Linked DNA regions of Homo sapiens. The protein of the gene in region 2 purifies or fractionates together with the protein of the main gene of each other region. This does not show direct contact. Each region holds a gene or a part of one and is shown on either strand. Other genes may lie near its edges.

Region 1 (3,521 bases), on a different chromosome or scaffold from region 2:
TGCTTTCCTACCTACAGAAAAGAGACTGCTTCATCTGTTTCCTGGAAATGCAGCATAAGGAAATAATATTAAATAAACTCTAACTAAAAAAAAGTCTATTAATATCTAATCAACTGCTAATTATCTACAATGGCAGAAGATATGGGAATATTTTTAAAGTTTCCACATAAACAATGTTGATTTTTATAATAGGCTCATCTTCTGATTGTTAAATTCTGGATAATCATAAAATTCACCATATTATCTAAACACTCATCAGCTGGTAATTAAAAAAGAGTAACATGAAGGAAAAAAATACTAAAAACGTGTCAGCCTTGAAAATAGTTTATAAAATACAGTCATGTGCCACAAAATGAAATTGTGGTAAATGATGGATCACAAACACAATGGTGGTCCCATAAGATTATAATGGAGCTGATAAATTCCTATTAGCCTAGTGACTTCATAGCCATGGTAACATTCACAATGCATTACCCACATGTCTCTGATGACGCTGGTATAAACAAACTTGTTGTACTGCCAGTCTTGTAAGTATACCACAATTATGTACAGTACCTAATACTTGATAATGTTAATAAATGACTATGTTACTGGTTTATGTATTTACTATATTATCATTATTTTACTACTTATTTCAAAAAAAGTTAAATGTAAAACAGCCTTAGACAGGCCCTACAGGAGGGATTCCAGAAGAAGGCATCATTGTCAGAGGAGATGACAGCTCTAAGCTAGTTACTGCCTCTGAAGACCTCCCAAGTGGGACAAGATGTGGAGGTGGGAGACAGAGATACTGATGATCCCAACCCTGCTAGGCCTAGCCTAATTGTGTGTGTTTATGTCTTAGTTTTTAACGAAAACATTTAAAAAGAAAAAAAATTTAAATATGAAAAGCTTATAAAGATATAAATACTTTTGTTCAGCTATAAAATGTGTGTTTTAAGTGTTATGATAGTGTGTTTTAAGTGCTACGATAGAAGAATCAAGAAGTTAAAAAAACTTATAAAGTAAAAAAAGTTCAGTACATTAATAATGAAGAAAAAGTATTTTAAAATAAATTTAGTGTAGCTTAAGTGTACAGTGTTTATAAAGTCTATAGTAGGGTACAATAATGTCCCAGGCCTTCACATTCCCTCACCACTCATTCACTGGCTTACCTAGGGCAATTTCCAGTCTTGCAAGCACCATTCATGGTAAGTGCCCTACACAAGTGTACCATTTTCTGTCTTTTATTCCATATTTTTACTGTACCTTTTCTATGTTTAAATACGTTTAGATACACAAATACTTACCTTTCTGTTATAATTGCCTACAGTATTCAGTGTAGTAACATGCTATACAGATTTAGAGCCTAGGAACAGTTGGCTATACCATATATCCTAGGGGTGTAGCAGGCGCTACTATCTAGTTGTGTGTGAGTAGTCACTCTGATGTTTGCACAATGATGAAATAGGCTAAAAATTTATTTCTCAGAATGTAACCCTGTTGTTATGCAACACATGACTATAATTACTCACACAGCTATATTACTGTTAACAGGTCTTCTTTCATTAGATACCAGAAAAATGTTGTTATAGACTACAACTGGAAATCCTTCTACTTTATTCCTTTCCTTTTTCAAGAAGAGTTAAGAAAGCTCCAAATCTTTTTTTTCTTTTTTTGAGACTCGCTCTGTCACCCAGGCTGGAGTACAATGGCACAATCATGGCTCACTGCAGCTTCCACCTTTTGGGCTCAAGGATCTTCCCACCTCAGCCCCCCGAGGAGCTGGGACTACAGGTGCATGCCGTCACACCCTAATTTATTTGCTAACTTATTTATTTATATAGAGATGGGGTTTTACTATGTTGCCCAGGCTGCTCTAAATCTTTTTTGAAATAAAGCTTTAAGTAGTAAACTTTGGGAAAACAATTGTATTCAAAATTAATCCAAAATTTAAAAACAATCCCTTTAAGAAATCCGGCAAAGGCGTAGTTAATTTCCCTGTTTACTAATGAAGACTCACATTTGAAAGCTTTCCAAAGAAGACAATCTGAAATAACCTCATCTTAGATTGAGTAGCTTAAGATATTACAGTGAAGTCTTCAGTAAAGTACCATTAAAAAAAATGTGCCTAATAAAAAACAACACTTCCAAGTCTTAGATGTAATACATAGAAGAATTTAAGAAATTAGCCTGAACTTTATTTCTCTAGGTTAAGGGGAATTAAGGGTAATTTGTAGTAGTTCCTGTAACCATTCAATAACTTCTGTAGCTCTGAAAATTAATTATAAAGACTATGTTTTATAATTTTGGCCAAGTCATATAGATCAGAAAGCCAGATAGATATATTTGGGCTAAACAGAATGCAAAATATTAACAGACTCATCCAAAGGTGCAGAAAACTTCCTGGAGGCCTCTAGAACTGAACTATCAAGCCTGAGTTAGGATAAATTGCCATAAACAAGACTATTCAAGCTTTGGGTAGAAGGCTATACATAAAGGTTCCCTTCAACCCTAAAATGATAAAACATACACAAATACAAACCAAAGCCAGACCAAAAACTGTTTAAAAGTAGTTCATGAACCTTCAAAATGTTCCAAAGTGGCTACATGCACAAATGCTTCCCCAATGTAAATGATTTATCTTTAAACATCAAAAGGATGGTCCTCATCTCACTGGAAATAAACAAGACAAAACTAAAAACATCTTTTTACCTTATTAAAGTAGTCCAGCAGGAGCGGCCATCTAAGCAACGTAAGTAACAACTTATGGTTGTTTTCTTGAACTGTTTAATATCTTCTAATTCTTCTTCTCTCATATCTGGCCTCTGAGCTATAAACAGCTGCATCAGGTTAAACAGTTCTTCTACTGCCTAAAAAAGCCAAATAAGCCATATGATCTTTTAACCCTATAGCATTTTAGAAGGTCAGTTTCTCATTTCTACGTTCATTAATCAACTCTTAAAATTATACAAATAAGCTAGATTATACTTCCATTCAGAAAGTTATAAAATCAGTAACAAATTCTATTTAAAAAATTTTGGCTGGGCGCAGTGGCTGATGCCTAGCACTTTGGGAGGCAGAGGCGGGCAGATTGCCTGAACTCAGGAGTTCGAGACCAGCCAGGGCAACATGATGAAACTCTGTCTCTACTAAAATACAAATAATAACAATAATAATAAACACTAAAAGAACTCAACAAATCTTAAAATACAAGTTTAGAAAGAGTAAAAACTGTAAGTGAATACAATTCATTTTTAGTCTTATTACTGCTTAAAGCACTACTTTTGTAACTTCAAATGTAAACCCAGAGGCATGCCACACCATCTCCTATCCACTTTTTCTTTAATTAATGAGAAATCATTACTTTGTCACAAAGATTTTAAATGCCTAAATAACCCTTAAATTAATAGTGTATATGAGGTAAACCTTTGTTCCAACATTTAAAATGCTTTTCTAGAATGATGCTCAGTTCAATTTCCTGATGAATAAAAAGTAAAAACAAATATTTTAGTAAAATCACTAGCTGTGATTTTATAGAC
Region 2 (3,521 bases):
TAAGGGATCAAATAGAAAAGCCTCCAGGGGGAGTTCAAGACTCCTCCACCCTTTTCCAGCCCCTATCTCTCCCTGCTTTGGTTGGATGAATCACATTCAAAGGCAAGAAATTTCAGTCCCCTAAGGAGGAAAGGTTTGCTCAAGCTTGAAGGCAGGAATTGGCCATGTTTCCCAGGAAGTGAAACTTTCTGAGAAGTTACAAACTCAAGACACAAGGGTATGTTCATTGACTTTAGATTTACATCCTCGCAGTGACTGGAATGAAAAAGGCCCTTGGCCAAGGTGGCACCCTCCTTCCTCTTCAAGGAGTTCAATCTAAGGCAAGGGCCCTGGCCCAAAAAAAAGTCCAAGGTGAAGAGCCAGTGCCAGCTCAGCCACAGGGCATTCAAGTGAGGTTCAGTTTCTTCTGAATTTGGGTTTGCAGCCAACTAATAACCAAATATTACTCTGCCAGTCATTGTCTTGTCATGTATTTCCCTCAGGAACCTTGAGGGGAGGGTAGACTGTGGTTTGGACCATGGTTAAGGTAAGTCTGGATCTATGGCATTACCTATTGTTTTCTCAGAGACCAAGAAAATGAAGAGCTCATACAGTTCATAAGAAGCCAGAAGTAGAATCAGATCTGATTACGACAGTGCCTATGTTCTCTTCTAGAGCTTTGTCTTGGGCCAAGCCAGGTGACCTTAGGAGAAACTCTCTTGCTGGGGTCCTGGAGGGGAGGAGCTGAACCTCCCTTCTTACATGCTGATCTGTTTTCTGAAAAGGGAGAAAGCATGAAGGCAGGCAAAAGCCTTGTTTCTTTGAATATCTTGAATGAATAAATGAGATAATATACATATAGTGCATAGTCAATAATTGGCATTTGACAGATGGTAGCTAATTTTTCAATATGCTACTAAACTATGATTATAATAATGCTCAGCCTCTGGGACCAAAATAAGAAATTTGAAGACTGAGTCAATTAAGAGCCATCTCTTCTGCCTCTGCTCAAATATTTTATCTTATTCTGGAGTTATTAAGAAAATAAGGAATTTGGAGCTAGGATTCAAATAATCCCCCAACTCTTCAAAACATAATGACAATGATGTTATCTTCAATGTTTCTTTGGGATTTCCTGAGTTTCTACTTCCTAAATGTCTTTATAGAGGAAAACCCTCAGCTGTGTCATCTAACTGCTGCTCCTCCTCCTTCTAACATTTGAGAAGCCACCTATGGCAAACTCTAACAGGCACATACCCCATAGCTAGCCCCCTTCTTCCTCGCTTATGAAGTCCTGATTTTACCCAAGTAGAGGAAAGCAATATCCTCAAAAACGACTCCTCAGGTGATAAACAATAATTAGTCTAAACTAACTATATTAATCCATTTCTCTTTATCACAGATTGGTTTAGAGTATATATTTCACCAAGTTCTGGCCAGCAGGATCTGAAAAGATGTCAGTTGGCACTTCTGCAAAATGTGTGTGCAAGAGATGTGTGCAAGGAAAACCTTAAACATCTTTCCTGCTTTGGCTTTGCATGTGAAAGAAAATATGATGCTTGGATGTCTGATTCCAAAATGGCGGCATGGAAGCAAGCTGGCTTCATGCCCCCCAACCACAGACAACCAGAAACAAATGTACAGCACTGAGATTATCACCAGCAATATCCCAGAAATCAAATATGAAGATGAGACAGTTCCTGGGGCCACAAAGAAGTGAAAAAACTCCAAGCAGACGGGAAGATAATCAAACTTCCACATCCATGTCACCTCTCCCCCGATTCTGCCTGACACCAAGCTTGTGGAAAATTTCCCCCAAACTCACAATTTGTACACTGGAAAAAGTGAGATCAAGGTGGACAATCAGCTTCCCCATCATCCTGGGTTCCCTAGCAGGAAACCTGTCTTTGTCTTAACCCACAGTAAGCATCGTGACATCCTGAAGGGAGATATCCCTGGGGACAGGCAGAGACAAGGAAGAGGCAGATTTAGCATCCCCAGCCCTGGGAAGTCTGCTCTGTCACTTGGCCAAAGGAGATGCCAAATCAGAGTGGCTGTTCTATGGCTGTAGGAGGTCTGTCCCACAAGGTCCCCTGGGCACAACCCCCTAGTCAGTTTTCCCACACTGCTGGGGCTAACCTCTTTGGGACCTCCCCCATTCCGGAAAGGCAGTACTCTTATTGTTGACTAGAAAGGAGATGAACCTGGGCTTAAGGTGCTGCCTAGAGCCAAAAAGGAGGCAGTGACCTAGTGATATGGTGCTTGGAGCAGTAACATACCTTAGCACAAAAAGATCACAACGATAGTGGAAAAAACTGATCCCAAGTTCTGACATAGTTGAGCTGAAGAACCAACCCCTAATCATCTACCTCAAGACATTATGTAAGAGAAAAATGCATCCTATTATTTAAATCTTTTGTAGGCACATATTCTATAACTTGTAAACAAGACATCCTATACCTCATCATTTCACAAACTTACCCCAAAATCCCCCTGGAGTGGTGGCAAGAAAATCCCATTGAAGGCACACTGGGAGTAAGGGCAGTAACTGGTGTTGAAGAGCTCCAGGATGCTTTGATGGCATTGTTGATAGTTTCCAATACCCTGGATTTCAAACTGCTGGAATGGAAGAGTCATCTCAAATCTCTTGGTGCAGGGGGTCTTGTAAAGGTCACTTACGTTCACTACCTTCTTATATCCAGGATGAAAGCATGGGTCCCTGAGAATTTCATTACTTGCAACCTGAATGGAAAAATCACTTGAAAGCATCATGTGTGAACGCTTTGGATACAAAAGGTACAGTCTGACTTAATCAATATGTAGGCACTGTACAACATCCCACCACTTGGTATTGGAATCAATATGTCCTGCCCTGCCTTTTTACCCTTAGGAATAAATATGAAAAATGGATTTGTGTAACAGGCACCAGAAGTGGTATCAGATATAAATGTATTTGGCTAGTCAAAGAATGCTGATGTAGTTAAAACTGGGCCCAGAAATGCCATTAGTTTGAAATGTCCCTGAGTGCTTAGTCCTAATCATCTAGGTCAGGAGCAAATTCACAAGGAAACTCTCAAGGTTGTCAAAAATTTGGGCCTGGGAGTAGTTCTCCAGGAGCCTACATAATTTAAAAATTATTAAAAAAATTTTTTTTCTTCTTCAAGCATTCTCCTATCCAAGAAAAATAATTTTTTTTTTTGAGATGGAGTCTTGCTCTGTCGCCCAGGCTGGAGTAAAATGGCGCAATCTCAGCTCACTGCAACCTCAGCCTCCCAGGTTCAAGCGATTCTCCTGCCTCAGACTCCTTAGTAGCTGGAATTACAGGTGTGTGCCACCACACCCGGCTAATTTTTTGTATTTTTAGTAGAGACGGGGTGTCGCCATGTTGGTCAGGCTGGTCTCGAACTCCGGACCTCAAGTGATCCACCCGCCTCGGCCTCCCAAAGTGCTGGGATTACAGGTGTGAGCCACCACGCCTGGCCCAAAAAAAAGTAATTTCTAACCCACAACCTACTAGGGAAGAAAGGAGGCTGCTGTGGATA
Region 3 (3,521 bases), on a different chromosome or scaffold from region 2:
TTACTCCTATTAGATTAACACACTCTTTGTCTTGTGGGAAATAAAAGAAGTGTAAAACAAGGACATATCACAGGATATATAGTGTAATTGGAGAGATATTAATGATTAATTAGCCATATAACTTTTGAGTAGTTCTATACATTTTACAGTATGTTGAAATCTTGTTAGTTTGTTAAAATAATTTTCTGTAAGCGGCTTTATTCCTTCTATCAGGTTGTCTCTCTTCAATTCCCTTGCTACTAAAGGCAGCACTTTTGGTTTCCACATATGGCATTCTTTCTTGTTGTTATTGATAAAAATATAGTTGGTAAAAGTTTAGTAATTTAAATAACAATAGCTAACACTTAACGTAGCATTTAGTATGTCAGGCATAGGTACAGTAGAAGCCCCTTTTGGTCTGTGTCACCGTTCCTTTCTTTTCCTCATTAGAGAAAACCAGTATTATTCACTTATTTTATATGCTTTCAGCTCATATTTTATATTATGTATGTTTATAGTTTACATAAATGAAACACTCCGTACACCATCTGAGCTTTTACCACTCACTAGCCATGTGACTTTACACAATTTATATTCTGTGTGCCTCTGTTTCCTTATCTATGAAATGGGGATTATAATATTACTTTTCTTATAGGATTTTTGTAAGGTTAAATGACAAATTACATATGAAGCACTTAAGACAATGCCTAATACATAGTAAGTGCTTCAGAAATATATCGTTGCTATTATTATTTGATTCTCTTTTTTTAGCCAACAATATTTTTGAGCCATATTCATTATAAATCCATTTCATTGGTTTTAATTGGTAGATAGTACTCCTTCCCATCAATAAATCTCTTTTTATTTTTCCGTTATCCTGTTCATGGACATTTAGATCATTTTCAGTTTTTTGCTGTTACAAAAAATGCTTCATGAACATATTTGTTCATGTATTCTTGTGCACATGTGCTGAAAGTTTACATTATAAATCTAGACTTGTAATTGCTGGATTATAGAGTATGTACATTTTGAACTCCAGTTAAATTTACTTCTTTTTTTGGGATATTAATTATTAAATTGTTGGGCTGTATATAAACATGTGACCACCACTCTGTTCATGGTAGATGTGGAATTTTGAGGTAAAAATTTAAGGATATTGCTAAAGTTATTAATACATATTGTCAAATTGCTTTCCAAAAGGATATATATTATTATATTCCTACCTGAAAGTGTTGGGTGGTTTCTTTTTACTTGCACCAGTATTGAATTATGTCTTTCTTTAATTTGTCAATGTGGTATGTGAAAAATACTCTATTATGTTTATTTGTACTTCTTGTTTACTGTTGAACCCTTTCTCCCTTATGCTTATTTCATCAATTTGCCTTTTTTCCATGAAATTCTGCTATCTGACCTTTATGTTTTTATTGGGAAGTCAAAGTTATTTTCTTACTGATTTTCAGGGCTTGTATTTGATATTTTTTCAATTCTTTGCAACTATTTTCTTCAGCTTTTTAAAATTGTAATAATTATTTTGAAGTATATTATTTGTAACCTCTAATGTATTGTCCTTTACTATTCTGTATTCTTAGTTTTACCTTTAATGATTTTGCCCATATACACTATTTTTTACTAAAAGGTATGAAATAAAGCTCTAACTTGAATAATCTGTAAAATCATAAATTTTCTCAGCAATTTATTGACTTCCTTTACAATTACTTGGTGATTTTTTTTCATCATACATTAAGTTTGGGTGTGTGTACATATAGATATGTCTGTGTACTATTACTCTATTTCTAAACTATTCATCTGCTCTTCTAAACTATCTGTTAGCATTATTATGCAAATAAAATGTTGGCTTAATTTTTGTAATTTTCTTGTGCAATTACTTCCCAGCCCTCTTTGCCATCATTATTATTATTTTAAATTATATATTTTTACCTGTGCTCCTCTAGGTTGTAATAGCATATTTTAAATTATAACTGTCAGTGATATAAACCAAAAAATTATTAAGATTTTGATAAAATTGCAATTTAAATAAGAAAGAATTTGCTGTTTAAAATATGCTTTCTTTCTACTCATAAACATAACATATCTGTGCATTTATTCAAGTTTCTCCTTAGATTTTCCAGTTATCCTTCTATATGTCCTACACATATCTTTCTGGTCTTTGCTTACGTTTTAAGTTGAAATGTATGTGTTTTTAGTTGTATGCATTTGAAATTAAAATTGCACGTGTATCATCATAGCCAGTAACATTAAGATCTTTACTATGTCTAAATTGGCTTCACCTACTCATATCTGAGGATTAAGCCTTTGGAAAGACAGTTTTTATAACTTTTCTGATGTATTCACTATACTGACCAGTAGCATTTTCATTAATGGCTTCAGATTAATCTAATGAAAATGACTTTGGCACTAAGCACAATTTTGACTACAACTAGGGTATTCTCATAGGCTGATCATTGTTAGGCCTTGTTATGGGACTGAAAGAAATAGCAGCCTATTTCAAAACATTTTGTGCACAAAAAATTAACCCTCCAAGATTTTTAAAAGATTATTTATGTGTTTATTTTATCTGATTATAAAAGTATTACAGGCTCCATTTAGAACATATTTTAAATGACAACATACACAAATATTACACCAGATACTAATAAGAGTGCTTAATTATTATTAACACGTTGTGTTAAATTCTGTATATGTTCCCCTTCCTAGTTGAGATCATGCTATATATCAATTTGATTTTCTGCTTTTTAAATTTAACATTGACAAACCTTTCAGTGTCACCATATTGTCTTTTTAATGACTATTTTAATGCCTACATATTTTATTTGTATATTAATATGCTGGCATTTGCTTAAACTTCTTGTTATATTTTTAGGTTTTATTTTCGTATTGCTTATCCTCATATGTTCTTCATGATAATAAGTAATTTCAGTAAGCATCAATTTATAAATATTGGCACAGGTCTTCTCTTTCACTCTGTTTTCACCAGTACTGCGTAATGCGGTACCCTGAGAAATAATTCAAGCAAGAATAGAAAATAATAGAAATGTTTCAAGTAAGAATAGAAAAGTTCAAGTAAGAATAGAAAAGTTCAAGTAAGAATAGAAAAGAATAGAAAAATACTTCTATTCAAGTAAGAATAGAAAAGAAATAGGGAGGTAGGTGGTCCATCATTTCAGTAAGTCATGTTTTTATTCCCCTAGAAGTTTTGATTATTTTTCAGCCCTATCTTATGTTTAAAAGTGCTTTGATAGCTATATATTGTGTGTGTTCATAATAAGAGGATTACATGTGTATTAGTCAGAAGTTATAATTTTTAAAAGTAATTATTTTCAGTACTGTAACTCAAGATATTTAAGTTGTTGATTAATAGATATTCTTAGTTCTGTTTTAATGAACAGATAACTATTATAACCATCATTGGTAAAGAACATGGTAATTTCTTCTATCTAAAATCCATATTATTAAGTATTTAGATTGGGGGGAGATTTATTCTCTAAATTATAAATTCTCTGTAAGTTTTCTTTATGAAATTC
Region 4 (3,521 bases), on a different chromosome or scaffold from region 2:
TTTTTTTTTTTTTGAGACAGAGTTTCACTCTTGTCGCCCAGGCTGGAGTGCAATGGCACAATCTCGGCTCACTGCAACCTCGTCCTCCCAGGTTCAAGCAATTCTCCTGCCTCAGCCTCCCAAGTAGCTGGGATTACAAGTGCTTGCCACCACACCTGACTAATTTTTGTATTTTTAGTAGAAATGGGGTTTCACCATCTCTAGCCATCTCTGGCCATCTCTCTGGCCAGGCTGGTCTCGAACTCCTGACCTCAGGTGAGCCATCTTCCTCGGCCTTCCAAAGTGCTGGGATTACAGGCATGAGCCACCGCACCCGGCTTCATTTTCCTCATCTTTAAAATGAAATGATGATAGCCATCCTCTCATAAAAATATTAGGATTAAATCACGTAAAGCATGATTCTTGTCTTGTCTCCTTGTTCCCAATTCTTTCTGTCTGGTTTCTATTTTATTGTGCCTGTTCTTACCTGTCCTTCCCTTTTGTGGAGAAGGGGAGAGCAGAGAGCCCCAGCAGAGCTATGCTGTATCATTGCTATGTAGATGGAGCTCATTAAACACCCCTCGATTGCTTGAATACATGGGAGATCCACTCTTAGAACATTTAGGGACAATATTTCCTGTCCCCTCATGTCACCTTGATACTTCCCCTGAAAAGAAATGGAACTGAGAATTACCTACGACTGAGAATTACCTACAGTGCTAACCATCCTCACAACCAAAAGCACAGTTTAAAAAGAGGGAAAATATAACCAGAAAATAGGACAATATGTGATCTTTTATCTTTTCATAGGGCAGAAAACTTTCTCTTAATTTTGTTTGAATGGAAATTTGACATCCCAGTGTAAAATGAAAGCTGTTTATAGAAGTGTTTCTCTTTTCTTTGTTTGAGTACTTCATGAGTAAAAAACATTTGAACATGTACATATACAGATACATATACATATTTATATTCAATCACTTAACAAATATTTATTGAGCATTTACTATGCACCTTACCCTGTTTTAAGTGCTAAAGACACAGCAGTGAATGAACCAAACTAACAAAATAATCTTTGTCCTGTTATCTATATCTTAGCCACATGTAAGTTTTGGTTTTTAAAATGGGGGGAGTCAAATATATGGTATGAGGGATTTACACTGTGGAGGAAAATAAAGAAAGGCAGACAGGAAATGTGGAGTGGGCATTTTAAATAGTGTGGTCAGAAAGGGACTCACTGAGAAGGTAACATCTGAGGAAAGACCCGAAAGAGGTAAAGGTGAGCCATGCAGATATCTAGGGAGGAGCTGCACAGGGAGCAGGAACAGCAAGGGTCCCGAGGCAGGAGCGCAGCTGGTGTGTTCACTAAATAGGAGGAGGCCAGTGGGGCTGGAGCCAAGGAGCCAGGAAGAGGTGGACAGCAGACAAGGCTGGACAGTTGAGTGGATGAGCTGAGTGCAGAGGTCACTCTAATGACCTTAGCTTTCACCTGGGTGAAACTGGAAGTTTTTGAGCAGGAGTGACAAGTTCTGAGTTCCATCACTCTGAGAGCTACGTTGAGAGTAGAGTGCAGGGGCCAAGGTCAGACGGAAGGAGACCAGTCAGAGGCTGCTGTTATAACCCAAGTGGTGATTTGGCCAGGTGGCAGCCAGTGAAAAATACAGCCAAAAAGATGACACAGTACTAGCAAATAAGATGTACTAAAACTACATAAAAATTAAAAGTTTAAAAGAATGATTTAAAGAAATATGAATTCCAATATTCTCTTTCCCAAACTCCAACTCAATAAAGTATTGTGTTCATCCTTGGGGTGTAGGCCACACCTACTTTTGGAGGCCATTGTTTCACAATAATTGGTTGGTTGATTTGTCCCGGCTGACCTGAATGTCTGCCTGGCTTTCTGTCTTTAGACTTCTCTTATGCTCACTTTCCTTTTTCCTGATCTTGCCAGTCTTAGACACCAAAACAAGTCTCCTCCACAGAGACTAACCATACAGAGGCTGGTGATTACATGTAGGAATTTTCTTCCTTTCTTGAGAAAGTCTGTGGTCACCATGTCAACTGCACCCAACTCTGGGCCAACCCTTCAGAAATAAACTTGTTAGATGCACATGTTATTTGGGTTCAATAAAATAGGATTTTGCCTGGGAGGACCCAAGGTATTTGCTAAAGCAACACCTCTGAAGAAGGCTAAGGTGGGCCCCAGCTCACAAGAGACAAGCATGGCCTTTGTAAGGATTGCTCCCTTTATCCTGTAAGAAGTTCAAGAGGATTCTCAAAGAACCACACTGAGAACAGCCCCAGGGGTTCTGTGTCCCCACAGCCAGGCTCCTGGAGATGCCAGAAGACAAACTTCTTGGAGAAAGGACTCCTCACCCTTAGACAAAACTCAGGATGTGTTTACCAAACCTGGGAAACTTTAAAGCTGCCACAAACACACTTGGGAGAAAATCAGAAGTTCATAAAAGGCAGATACTTTTTGAACTGAGATTCCACAAGATGAGAAAAGACTGACATTGAAATATGTGAGGAGCTATCTTAGAATGTTAGAGCTTGGAAGAATTTAGAGAATTTTCTACCTGTTCCCATTTTGACAGACAAAGAAACGAAGGCCAGGACTTACCCCAAACCATACAACAGTTAGAAGAACCATGAGTAGAATCCACGTCTTCTGATTCCCAATCTAGTGTTATTTTTAAAACAAACTAAAGCAAAACAAAATTTTTTAAATAAAAAAAGCAAAACTTTTAGAGACAGGTTAGAATTGTAATTAATTTCCATGTCTAGGCTCAAACAGATGTTTCCACAAGTCTCCCTAATTTTACTAAAAGCTCTGAAAGCTTTCTTAGGGGAAAATGGTCTTCTGGTATAAAAGATATCCTAGAAAGCTATGCTTGGATGCTTAAGACTCCCCAGGATGGGAGCAAGGGGACTCTAAGCAAACAAAAACCAAGAAATGCAAACAATTATCGACTTAGTAATCCCTGAAACAGCCCAAAGTGGACTATATATTTATTTGCTTAGCTCACTTTATAGAATATAAATTTTAAGTTTTCAAAAGAGGAGGCAAGTGAAAAGATCCTTAAAAATTATGAATATCATAATTACAAGCTGGATTCATGAATCATTAATTTCAACCTCTTAGGCTACCAACATATTTACAAACATAAACACTGATAAGGGCAAATACCTGCATTCCCGACCTCTGAAAGCAGCCAAAGCCAAATAATATATTGGTTAAAAGGTTAAAAAGGAGTAATCTATAAAGAGGGCAATCTTAGGCCAGGTGTGGTGGCTTACCCCTGTAATCCCAGCACTTTGGGAGGCTGAGGCAGGCAGATCACATGAGGCCAGGAGTTTGAGACCAGCCTGGCCGACATGGTGAAACCTCATCTCTACTAAAAATACAAAAATTAGCTGGGCGTAGTGGTGCAAGCCTGTAATCCCAGCTACCCGGGAGTCTGAGGCTCAAGAATCACTTGAACCCCAGGAGGGGGTCGGCGGGGGTTGCAATGAGCCAAGATTGCACCACTATACTCCAGCCT
Region 5 (3,339 bases), on a different chromosome or scaffold from region 2:
CCAGACTGGCCAGTCCTAGAAGAACATCTAGTGGTACAGCTTCTATACTTAGTGACTATGGGTTCTAGCAGGGGATAGACCATCCTTTGTACAGGTTGTACAGATTGAAGTACCATCTGTGGCTTGACTACTTCAAAATCCAGTTCAAGACATGATTTCAGATTGATAAGACAAGTTATAGGATTGGAGTTGAATTGAAAATTTGCATTGAATTTACATTTTTTTTAATTCCTAAGGGGTAGTTTGGTTCATCAGGACTACTTCATTTCAATTAGGTATACTCAGCAGCACTAAGCAAAATCAAAGCCTATAAGGAAATCTATAGTATATATTAAAGGAATAAAAGAAAAACCAAAATTAAAGTACCATGTACTTTTAAAAACTAACTGAGAAGGTAACAACTGATTAAAAAAAAAAAAGCCAATGTATTGAGAAGTTTTCTTGACTGATGGTGATATTGCCATATAAGTGTATATGTTAGAAAAAGATGACCTCAAGTTTTTTGTTACATCTTTTCTGTAGACCTAGGTATTCTCATTCATTCATTCATTATTGTTGAGCACTTGCTATTTGAATACTGATTTTTTACAAATGTCTTTCCACTTCAAGAGCAAGTATAAAGTTAGGTAAAATATCTTTTAATGTGTCATTTTAATTGGTATTCTCAGTATGATGATGCCAAAAATTCATATTTGTTTCTAGAAGGAACCCTAGACTTATAGAATTCCTTATGATATAAAATATAAAGAATTTTTTTCTGAATAAATAGGGCAAATTTGAAATATGGGCCAAAAAATGTACAATAAGTGGTCAGTGGAGGATTCTAACATCAATAATTGAATTACAAAAATATTTTCACATTGCCCTTTTATCCCCAAGTAATGCTCTCCTTCTTAGAAGCCATGTGAATGTCTGAATAGATGCTTCTCTAAAACAAACCAGTTCGATAACAGACATTTTTTAACTTGTTTTATTTTAATATAGTCAACAGCTGCTCAGTATCAGGAAGGATTTACAATAAAGGAATCACAAGTTTAAATAATGATAAGCCCTCTTTTAGTTATTTTTACAAAGACATTAAAAAGACTAAAAGCACAATATTCTTACACATACATGCATATAGACACAAATACAAGAAAAATTGGGGAAATCTGAACAAAATCACTGGATTATGTTAATGTCAATATCCTAGTAGTAATAAGTACCGTAGTTTTGAAAAATGCTACCTTTGGAGGAAACTGGGTAAATGGTCCACAGAATGTCTCTGTATTATTTCCTGCAACTGCATTGGATCTAGAATTAATCTCAACATTAAAAGGTTAATTTTCGTCTAAAAGCACACTATTTCTTAATTGATCATTGCATTTCACATAAACTCCTCCTTTATTGTTTCTTTTCTCTTTTTATTTAGGCATGGAATTTCTTATCTCACTTGCCAGTGATAAATGTTGGCATAAGTGTTAAAGGCTCGTGGGATGACTTAGTTGAAGGACATAATGAACTCTCTGTCTCAACTCTGACTGCAGACAAACGAGATGACAACAAATGGATCAAATTGCATGCTGACCAAGAGTATGTGCTTCAAGTGAGCTTGCAGAGAGTCCACTTTGGGTTCCACAAGGTATAGTGTTTGGTTTCCATTCTCAAATATTTCACACCAAATACCAGCATGCACCACCACACATATCTGTTATGTGACTAATGTGCCCGTGTCATTCATGAATCCTGCTTTCTCAACTGGTCTTAAGCAGCGAGAGTTAGTCTTTTGAAATTCGTGAGTTCTCCTCATGTGTCATTTTTCAGCCCCAGAAAATCTACCTTACATAAGAATATATTGCCTAGAGTACTATTCTCAAAGTATGGTATACAGACTCTGGCCAGCAGAATTTCCTGGAGTGCCTTTTAAAGTGCAGATTCCTTGGCCCCACTCCAGACTGGCTGAATCAGAACCTCAAGGAGGCGGGAATCTCAAAATCTATACCTTCACTCAGTGCCCCACATGATTTTTAAGGGCCTTAAAGCTTGAGCAGTACTGGCCTAGAGGCACTTTGGTATACAGGAACCACATTGGGCTAGATGTAGATGAGACTGAAGCTTTACCACTTAGCTCTATGAATTTGAATAAGACATTAAGCTTTTCTGAGCCTCAGTTGCCACATTTGCCTGCGTCCTTCATTATAATGCATAGGAGAGCTTTGTCAATGTTCATACAGGCAAAAATGTACAGTATTTTTATTTTAGATTACTATGCTCTTTTCTGTTGCCTCTGATTATCTGGTCCTCTAAGAATATTAGTACACAGCAGGTGGGCAGATTGGTTTTTAGTGCCATAATAATTAAAATAAGAAAGAATTAGTCTTCTTTTTGGTCCAGTGGATTCAGGGCTTTCCCATATCTAGAATAAGCCCTCAGGGGTGAAGCTGTAGTTCATAAGTATTGTCCCTTCTGTTCTCACACACAAAATGATCAGTAACTTTCTATTCTTAAGATGTTCTTTCAGTATTGTACCTTCAAGTCTCACCTCATTTGATTTCTAATTCTAAAAAAGTCTGTCAGTGTAAGTATTAACTGATTGGCCTCTGGCATTTCAGAGGCTTTAGTATGAGCTTTTTTTTTTGATACGAAGTCTCACTGTGTCGCCCAGACTTGGCTCACTGCAACCTCCACCTCCTGGGTTCAAGCATTTCTCCTGCTTCAGCCTCCCAAATAGCTGGGTTTTACAGGCATGTGCCACTACACTCAACTAATTTTTTGTATTTTTAGTAGAGATAGGGTTTCACCATGTTGACCAGCTCATCTTGAACTCCTGACCTCAAATGATCCACCTGCCTCTGCCTCCCAAAGTTCTGGGATTACCAGCATGAGCCACCACACCTGACCTTAATATGAGGTTTCATTTGTTTGTTTGTTTGAGATGGAATTTCACTTATGTTATCCAGGCTGGAGTACAAGGGTGCAACATCAGCTCCCTGCAACCTCCGCCTCCCGGGTTTAAGCAATTCTCCTTCCTCAGCATCCCGAGTAACTGGGATTACAGGTGCCTGCCACCATACCCAGCTAATTTTTTGTATTATGTTGGCCAGGCTGGTCTCAAACTCCTGACCTCAGGTGATCCACCTGCCTTGGCCTCCCAAAGTGTTGGGATTACAGGCGTGACCCACTGCACCTGGCAATATGAGCATTTTTTAGATGACTTAATGTATTCCAACTTATAAAAAAAAGTAATAATTACAAACTAATAATAGTAATAATAAAAATAGCAACAATCATAAAGATAAAATCATGGGGGAAAACTATGATTTTTTTACCTTAATATTCTACTTAAAGCTTAGATTTAAT

Evidence for each region.
Region 1: the proteins of ENTPD1 (region 2) and USP34 purify together in Homo sapiens (affinity purification with mass spectrometry; one large-scale study listed by BioGRID and IntAct). This does not show direct contact.
Region 3: the proteins of ENTPD1 (region 2) and ANKRD50 purify together in Homo sapiens (affinity purification with mass spectrometry; one large-scale study listed by BioGRID and IntAct). This does not show direct contact.
Region 4: the proteins of ENTPD1 (region 2) and ANKRD44 purify together in Homo sapiens (affinity purification with mass spectrometry; one large-scale study listed by BioGRID and IntAct). This does not show direct contact.
Region 5: the proteins of ENTPD1 (region 2) and ASCC3 purify together in Homo sapiens (affinity purification with mass spectrometry; one large-scale study listed by BioGRID and IntAct). This does not show direct contact.

What each region holds. Positions count from the first base shown.
Region 1 is NC_000002.12:61,209,078-61,212,598, forward strand, and holds part of USP34 (ubiquitin carboxyl-terminal hydrolase 34), read right to left. Parts: intron 2,853-3,521; coding exon 2,695-2,852; intron 1-2,694. UniProt on the Homo sapiens protein: Ubiquitin hydrolase that can remove conjugated ubiquitin from AXIN1 and AXIN2, thereby acting as a regulator of Wnt signaling pathway.
Region 2 is NC_000010.11:95,846,646-95,850,166, reverse strand, and holds part of ENTPD1 (ectonucleoside triphosphate diphosphohydrolase 1), read right to left. Parts: exon of another isoform or gene 3,431-3,521; intron 2,776-3,430; exon of another isoform or gene 2,722-2,775; coding exon 2,461-2,721; intron 757-2,460; coding exon of another isoform or gene 595-756; exon of another isoform or gene 1-594.
Region 3 is NC_000004.12:124,674,730-124,678,250, reverse strand, and holds part of ANKRD50 (ankyrin repeat domain-containing protein 50), read left to right. Parts: intron 1-3,521.
Region 4 is NC_000002.12:197,300,768-197,304,288, forward strand, and holds part of ANKRD44 (serine/threonine-protein phosphatase 6 regulatory ankyrin repeat subunit B), read right to left. Parts: intron 1,753-3,521; exon of another isoform or gene 1,466-1,752; intron 647-1,465; exon of another isoform or gene 196-646; intron 1-195. UniProt on the Homo sapiens protein: Putative regulatory subunit of protein phosphatase 6 (PP6) that may be involved in the recognition of phosphoprotein substrates.
Region 5 is NC_000006.12:100,510,991-100,514,329, reverse strand, and holds part of ASCC3 (activating signal cointegrator 1 complex subunit 3), read left to right. Parts: intron 1-1,411; coding exon 1,412-1,621; intron 1,622-3,339. UniProt on the Homo sapiens protein: ATPase involved both in DNA repair and rescue of stalled ribosomes. 3'-5' DNA helicase involved in repair of alkylated DNA: promotes DNA unwinding to generate single-stranded substrate needed for ALKBH3, enabling ALKBH3 to process alkylated N3-methylcytosine (3mC) within double-stranded regions.